Homo sapiens: one gene and its partner. Each later gene encodes a partner of the first gene's protein in a complex. Each region holds a gene or a part of one and is shown in the gene's direction. Other genes may lie near its edges. The genes, in order: PPP4R1 and PPP4R2.

Region 1 (3,825 bases):
AATGATGTTGAACACTTTTCCATAAGCCTGTCAACCATTTGTGTATATTTTGTGGAGAAATGTCTATCCAAGTCTGTTGCACATTTTTAAATTGGATTATCTTAAGTTGTGTTGTTGAGTTGTAAGAGTTCTTTATATATTCTGGATTATAGACCTCACCTGCATTTTCAAATGATGTCTTTGCTGAGTATGGAATGTGGGGCTGACAGTTTGTCTTTCAGTATATTAAAGATGCCACTCCATTGAGTTCTGGCTTGCCCACTTCTGACTCAAAACACACGCCTCCTCTTCTGCCATATAGTGCCGGGGTGTGAGTCCATCTAGTCAGGGTCAAGCTGGGTTTGCGTTTTGTGATTGCTGTGGTTACGTTCAGTGTACTTGGGGCTTCAGTTTTTCTCGCTGTGGGCTGCCACTACCATTGTCGTTTGCTGAGGGTGGCAGCTGGGGTACCAGTGGTCTTCTAGTGTGAGTATTCCACCCGGCGTTTAGCGGTACCTGCACCCCTGCGTAATGGGTGGGACCTCCTATCTGTGCTTGGTCTCGGGCAGGACTTCCTACAGCTCCTCCTGGAATAAGGAGCATTAGTTCTCCTCTCCCACAGTTGCAGTATTTTTGCTGGGCCCACAGGGTGGACAGGCTTTGGGGCCCCTCCACCAGCAGGTTAAGCCTTTTGCTTTGCACGAGAAAAGGGCCCAGCAGAGTGCTTGATGATTCATGGCTGTCAGTCAGTTGCTTCTGCCTGCTATGAGACATCTCTCCTGTTTTTCCTGACCATCTTTCTTGAAGCACCCATGGGAGGCAGGTACCCTGTGGAAGTCAGAAGGTTGTCTGGGAATGTGAGCTCCCTGTGTCGGGCACATCTGGCTTTGTTTGAGCCACCCCATGCTCCTGCCAGCCACCATCTGGCCCTGGGCAGCTGACTGCAATTCGAGCTGATTTCTCCCTGCCCTGTTAGGTGCTAGCAGGTGTCCTGTCCATCCGGGCTCTGCTGAGGGGCAGTTCTCTTTCCCATCTTGGGAAGTTAGGTTGTTTGTGTGCTTTGCAACCCCAGCTCTCTGATGGGCTCAAGAAAAGATCTTGAAGTTTATGTAGCTTTTTCTACTGTAGGGTCAGTGACGTTCTTTGCAGTTTTCTGTATTCTAAGCAGAAACTGGTCCTATTTGGAATTTTTATTTTGAATTTTGTCAGAAAATAAGTGTGTCTCTTTGAGGATGCATATTTGTATACACAGGTGCATTTATCATTGCTGCATAATCTATATTCATGTTACAGTTGACTTTCTGCTTATTAGAAATGTAAATCCTCTTGAACATAAAATCTGAAAGGCAAAAGTCTCACATCCAAGGTATTTCTTCAAGGCCATCATTGAAGCTTTCAGGTTAGCTTGGTAGATGTCATGAAAGTCTCAGGGCCCCTCAGATGTGATGGGAAGGTTGCTGGAGGACACCCTCCCTCTGTTATCCCTAGCAAATCCCTTCCAGGAAGGCTCCTCAGAGCCTCGACAGGTACACAGTGGACTCCCTCCCTCTGCGGGGACTTCTTACTGAGAAACTTGATTGTAGATGGAAGCTTCTCAGCACATTCCAAACTGTGACCATGGATCAGTGTGGGCCATGTTCCAGTTGAACATACTAGGAAGTGCTTTGCTCTGTCTCAGTCCCCATGGATGCAGAACTCTACAGCTTTTGTTTTCCTTACACTCTAAGGAACTTGAATAGCATGTAAGTGCATTTCCAGATACACAGAGACTGGAGGTAACTGTACAGGAGAGGTCTGCTTAATCACTCCTCTTTGCGTATGTTTGAGACAGGTGCTCAGTAATCCAGTATTACAGATGATTTAAATGGGTAACCTATTTTCATTTGTCTCGCTGATTTTTAAACATTGTCTTTTTGTAATTCCTTTTTGTAGACAGCTGATTTTACTTCTAGAGTTATATAGTCCCAGAGATGTTTATGACTATTTACGTCCCATTGCTCTGAATCTGTGTGCAGACAAAGTTTCTTCTGTTCGTTGGATTTCCTACAAGTTGGTATGTATTGAACTTTTAAAATTTTAGATCAGCAAACTCTAAGATCCTAGAATGGAAGCTGTTCCTCATTTCTCCATGCTCACCCTCCCAGGTCAGCGAGATGGTGAAGAAGCTGCACGCGGCAACACCACCAACGTTCGGAGTGGACCTCATCAATGAGCTTGTGGAGAACTTTGGCAGATGTCCCAAGTGGTCTGGTCGGCAAGCCTTTGTCTTTGTCTGCCAGGTAAGCGAGGCCCTGGGCTTACCTGTTTGTGAGTTTTTCTCCTAGAAGAATGTCTTCTTTAACTTCCTACCTCTCTCTCACCCTCTTCCTTACTCTTAAGGAACAGAACCTTATAGTAGCCTGGCTGTTTATAGGATCATCTGCCCCCATTGTTGGGCATCTGGTGGCCCCTCTCTCCCAGCTAGCCAAGCCCCTCCTTACACTGGCATGCACCACACACACCCCACGTGCCTGCTGTATGTGCTTGTTCCACACCACATGCCTGGTATGTGCGTGTTCTGCTCTGCACACATTCAGACGTGTGTATATGTACATTTCACAGTGCACATACATGCATGTTCCTCACTGTTCCTCACTGCATATTACACAGGCATACATACATGTACCCCACCACACACATACTGTGCACACATATACCATACCACGGTTCCCACTAGAGGGTGCTCATGTCTGGGACCCAGAGCGCAGGTGTGAAAATGAAACACCTGTGAATGAACACTCTAGGTCTCCGTAGAGCAGTTTAAAAACTGTGTCTGTCCGTGTGGGCAGTTAATTATGTAATTTTTGATTTGAGTTCCCAAGTACGTGGAATTTTGGTTAAAAAGCAATAACTAAAATTTGTACCTGTGGTCACTCAGAGATTTTGTTAGCCAGTAGTCGAGTTTTTGGCTACATTGACAGAGAAGCCTAGAGCAGCTGTTTCTCTTCCCCAGACTGTCATTGAGGATGACTGCCTTCCCATGGACCAGTTTGCTGTGCATCTCATGCCGCATCTGCTAACCTTAGCAAATGACAGGGTTCCTAACGTGCGAGTGCTGCTTGCAAAGACATTAAGACAAACTCTACTAGAAAAAGGTAGGTAGTGACTCCACTAGAAGAAGCGTGTGAGTAGAGAAGGAGGTCTGTGGACTGCACTGGATCAGCAGATATCAAAGCAGAAGTATTGTCTGCTCAGAGAAAATAATCTGGTGGAAGGAAATACTTTAGTTGTTCCGGTGATTCTCCCAAGAGGGCATGGAAGATGAAAGGGATTTTTTAATTAGCCCTCTACTGTTCTAGTTGGAGTTTATTTATCGGAAGCATGTATCATTTTTATCATTTAAAACTTAGGTTTTTTTGTTTGCTTGATATTTTGAGACGGAGTCTCGCCCTGTCACCCAGGCTGGAGTGCAATGGTGCGATCTCAGCTCACTGTAACCTCTGCCTTCCGGGTTCAAGCAATTCTTCTGCCTCAGCCTCCCCAGTAGCTGGGATTACAGGTGCCCGCCACCACGCCCAGCTAATTTTTTGTATTTTTAGTAGAGATGGGGTTTCACCATGTTGGCCAGGCCGGTCTCGAACTCCTGACCTCATGTGATCTGCCTGCCTCAGCCTCCCAAAGTGCTGGGATTACAGGCATGACCCACCGTGCCTGACCTAAAACTTAGTTTTTAAACTTGGGTGTTGTTTTTATGTACAAACCATTGCCTGGCAGCGTGCCACTTGCAATCTGCAGTATGGGGGCTGGTACCTACCTATGTTTGCTCTCCCTTCTGCTTTCTCTTCATTAGGCAAGAGACAGATGCCC
Region 2 (3,769 bases), on another chromosome or scaffold:
ACGTACAATGGAACTTTAAGTCATATATACATACATATATATATATATATATATATAATTCTAAGGGGGGAAATGTTATATTTTTCTGTTTCTATAAGAGATGAATACAGTGGATACTTTTTCTATTGGTAATGATTGAGTTCACCTCTTTCAGAAGACATTTTCTTTCTCTTCTGAGTAATTGAAATAAAATCTGGCCCTTGTGAAACCCTGGAAATCTTAAGTCTGTTGAAATACCAGGTTAAACACATTCCAAGAGATCTGTTCAAACTCAAATTCTTTTGTATACTTCTGAGGTGCCTGAGAAAAAGACTTCATTATTTATGAGAAAATATGCTTTATCTTGGAAATTGTGTTCAAATGTTAGCTTACTATTTTGTAGAATGAATGTTTATGAAGCTGATATGAGACCATCTCAGAAGAACCAAGTAGGTTCCTTGACCTTTTGCTTGCTTTTCTGAACATTGTGAATATTACACATGTCTTTCTAAATTATTCTAGGGTATGCAAATGTCAATGGTATGAAACACCACTGTACTGGAAGAATTAATATATTACTTTAGTATGTACCTGAGCTAAATGACTGAAGCTTTAGGGGTGCATAGAAACCACCATAATTTGTATGACATTTTGAAGTGAATTAAATATTTTTGAACATGCTTCTTCGACAGCCAGTGTTATATTTTTCAGATCAACACAAAGCACAATGATTACTCGAAATTCAGTATTTTCAAATTTACATATTTAAAGTCATGCAAGCTGTAACTTCCCTGTCAAAATTACTGGCTGCCAAATTTATACCTGTTTCTTCAGCTGTACCTTTTGATATTTAAAGTTTTTAAATTTCTGTAAAGTAGATTTTGTAGAATGTAATGTGTTCACTGCCTTTGTGAAGCGGTATATAATTGTATAATTTCTGTGTGTAAACTGAATGCTTGGGCTTTCAATACAGTATTCATATAAAGCAATAAATATTAATGTTATGAAATATTTGACTACATTTTTATCAAAATATGAAAGAATCCCCCCTTTTTTAGTTTCAGATACCTGAACTACACAGATGAGCTTCTAAAACTGATGCAAACAGTTTCTGACACTGTATAATATGCTTTTGGGTGATTTGGGGGGCAACCACAAGTTTTGCGTTTTGACTACTTAAATCATCATGGCTATAAATACCAAAACGATTTGGATCCATTTATGTTTGTAGGATAATATACTACTGACTGACTTGACTGTCAGGTTCACAACAGCTAGATGATATATTTATGACTATGTCTAATAGTTGAAATAAAATCTGAATATTGATTTACTATACCCAAGAGGGGAGAAAAATTAACCATTGTAAATTTTTAAAAAATTTTTCAAAAATGTTAAAATGAGGCAAATTTAAGTTTACAAATTTTGAAATTTTCTTTTGAATATTTATGAAATTGTCAGTAAACTTACCTAAGATCCTGTGACCTTTTGATATTTTTTATTTTAATTGTAGTGCCATGGACCATTTGTAAACAAATTGATTTACTTTTGTTGGTTGTAAGTTGAAGATTTAGCATTATGACTTTGAGGTCTGTGGTTTTATTTGTAAACTTGCAATTGCTATATTTGCAAGGGCAAATGTATTTCTTTATTAAATAAAGTACAATAATGGTGAATGTACCAAAATGACATCACTTAACTCTATGAGAGATCTGCATTTTAATCTATAGTTTAATAGTTTTAATATTTATTAGATATTCATATGTTGATCATAGATCAAACTTGTTGCTGTTTATACAGATAATTGTAGAATGCTCATGGAATATCTTTAGGGTAGGTGGAATACTTCTGTAGTTAAATTGGGAAACCTTGTTCAGCTGGTTTTAGATATTGATGGCCATTTGGAAGTAAATTTCCGCAGGTATTCATAGGTGCACTTAACACAGACTTTGCTTAATGAAAATGTCAGTTCTAATAGTAACTGATTCACTTCTGAACAGAAGTGATTTTAGGCATATTTCTTAACATATATCAAGCAAAGTCCTGTTAAAAGATCTAAATGAAGAATGGAGACCTCAGTGATTAAAGATATTTTGTTTCTGACCTTGAGCAGATTGCTTACCTGTTCTCTAGACTATAACCCAACATGTAAAAAAAATTTGAAGATGGTGATGAGGAAAGTGAGATATATATATATATATGTATTATGTTTCTAGCACTTTTCCCTTTTAAAAAGTGAAAATATCCTTGTACATTTTTGAAAAATATATTTTCAGTTCTGAAAAATGTAGCAGAAGTAGTGAAAATGTCATATTTTAAATGTTGATTATTAGATAAATTTAACCTGCTTAGGGTTTATTGTAACTACACCTTTCAGACGTGTGTTTTGGAGTAGTGGAATTGCCAGCCAGGCCCTGTGGCTTGGAAAGGCATCCCAGAAATCCTCGGCCAGAAGGTGTGGCTTGTTAAAGCATTGAGATTCAGAGTATTTTGTTTTGCCGGTGTAGATAGGCATGTATTTATGCATTTTTGCATTTGTAAAATCAACTTTTCAAATAATGTAAATGTAATATACTAGTTTACTTAAAGGTACTTGGGCAGAATCTAAAGCTGCTACAATGTTTGATTATGAAAAAAATGTAACATGGTAAGGATGAAAATGCAACTTACAAAACCAAAGGAATTAAAAATTTTCGGTAGTGTTTCAAATTGTCTTCTGAACAGGAATTTAACATTGGTTTTGATGAAGGTGAGGGTCAGTTCTCAAGATTTGTGCTAATCATAAAATGAATGAATGCAAAACACCTTGTAATTTCATATGGAATTATAAAAATTAGGTTTGCTGGGTTTTGGCCTAATAAGAGTGCTAGTATGTATTGGTTAGACTACATCTTACTATTTCACATTTTAAAAATCAGTACACTCTTCAGGATTTTCTTTTATTTCAACTTGGAGCCTAGATTACTTTGCCAAATGTATTATTTTCATAATGCAATAAAATATAAATTAGAATATTTCTATGTGTGTAATTATTTTATGTGCCATAATGGTTTATTTGCCCTGCTGCCACTCCGACTCCCCCCCAACCCCCCCAACCCCCCCCGACCCTGCGCCACCACCCACCTCAAATCCTTAACTGAGGAAACTCAATGTGTGACTTTGTTACAGCCCTGTTTCTTACATGGTGACAAAGTGTTCCAGCAGGACTTGACAGTTGTGGTTCTTTGCCAGGCAAGTCATGCTGATTGTCAACAAAATCCAGATTTAAATAAGTCTCCACTGGTATAATTTGGCACTAGCTTACATGTATATATTTACAATATTTGTGTTAATCATTTTAAAGGCTGGGCGCAGTGGCTCACGCCTGTAATCCCAGCACTTGAGGCCAAGGCAGGTAGATCTCTTGAGGCCAGAAGTTCGAGACCAGCCTGGCCAACATGATGAAACCCCGTCTCTACTAAAAATAACAAAAATTAGCCAGGTGTGGTGGTGGGCACCTGTAATCCCGGCTACTCAGGAGGCTGAGGCAGGAGAATTGCTTGAACCTGGGAGGCAGAGGTTGCAGTGAGCCGAGATCACACCACTGCACTCCAGCCTGGGCGACAGATCGAGAGTCCGTCTTTAAAAATAAAAAAAATCATTTTTGAAATCCCACCTTCAGGCAACTACATGGTAAGAAGTGTAGAATTACCTGAAGTGGAGAGGAGGGTTCTGTTTTCAACTGTGGGTCTCCTTTCCTATGCTTCTTTTTGTTTTTGTTTTTGGGACGGAATCTTCCTCCGTTGCCCAG

Evidence for each region.
Region 2: PPP4R1 (region 1) and PPP4R2 share a complex: the UniProt entries of both Homo sapiens proteins name them as parts of the PP4 complex.

What each region holds. Positions count from the first base shown.
Region 1 is NC_000018.10:9,548,485-9,552,309, reverse strand, and holds part of PPP4R1 (serine/threonine-protein phosphatase 4 regulatory subunit 1), read left to right. Parts: intron 1-1,911; coding exon 1,912-2,032; intron 2,033-2,123; coding exon 2,124-2,258; intron 2,259-2,971; coding exon 2,972-3,113; intron 3,114-3,825. UniProt on the Homo sapiens protein: Regulatory subunit of serine/threonine-protein phosphatase 4. May play a role in regulation of cell division in renal glomeruli. The PPP4C-PPP4R1 PP4 complex may play a role in dephosphorylation and regulation of HDAC3.
Region 2 is NC_000003.12:73,066,206-73,069,974, forward strand, and holds the end of PPP4R2 (serine/threonine-protein phosphatase 4 regulatory subunit 2), read left to right. Parts: 3' UTR 1-2,993; downstream 2,994-3,769. UniProt on the Homo sapiens protein: Regulatory subunit of serine/threonine-protein phosphatase 4 (PP4). May regulate the activity of PPP4C at centrosomal microtubule organizing centers.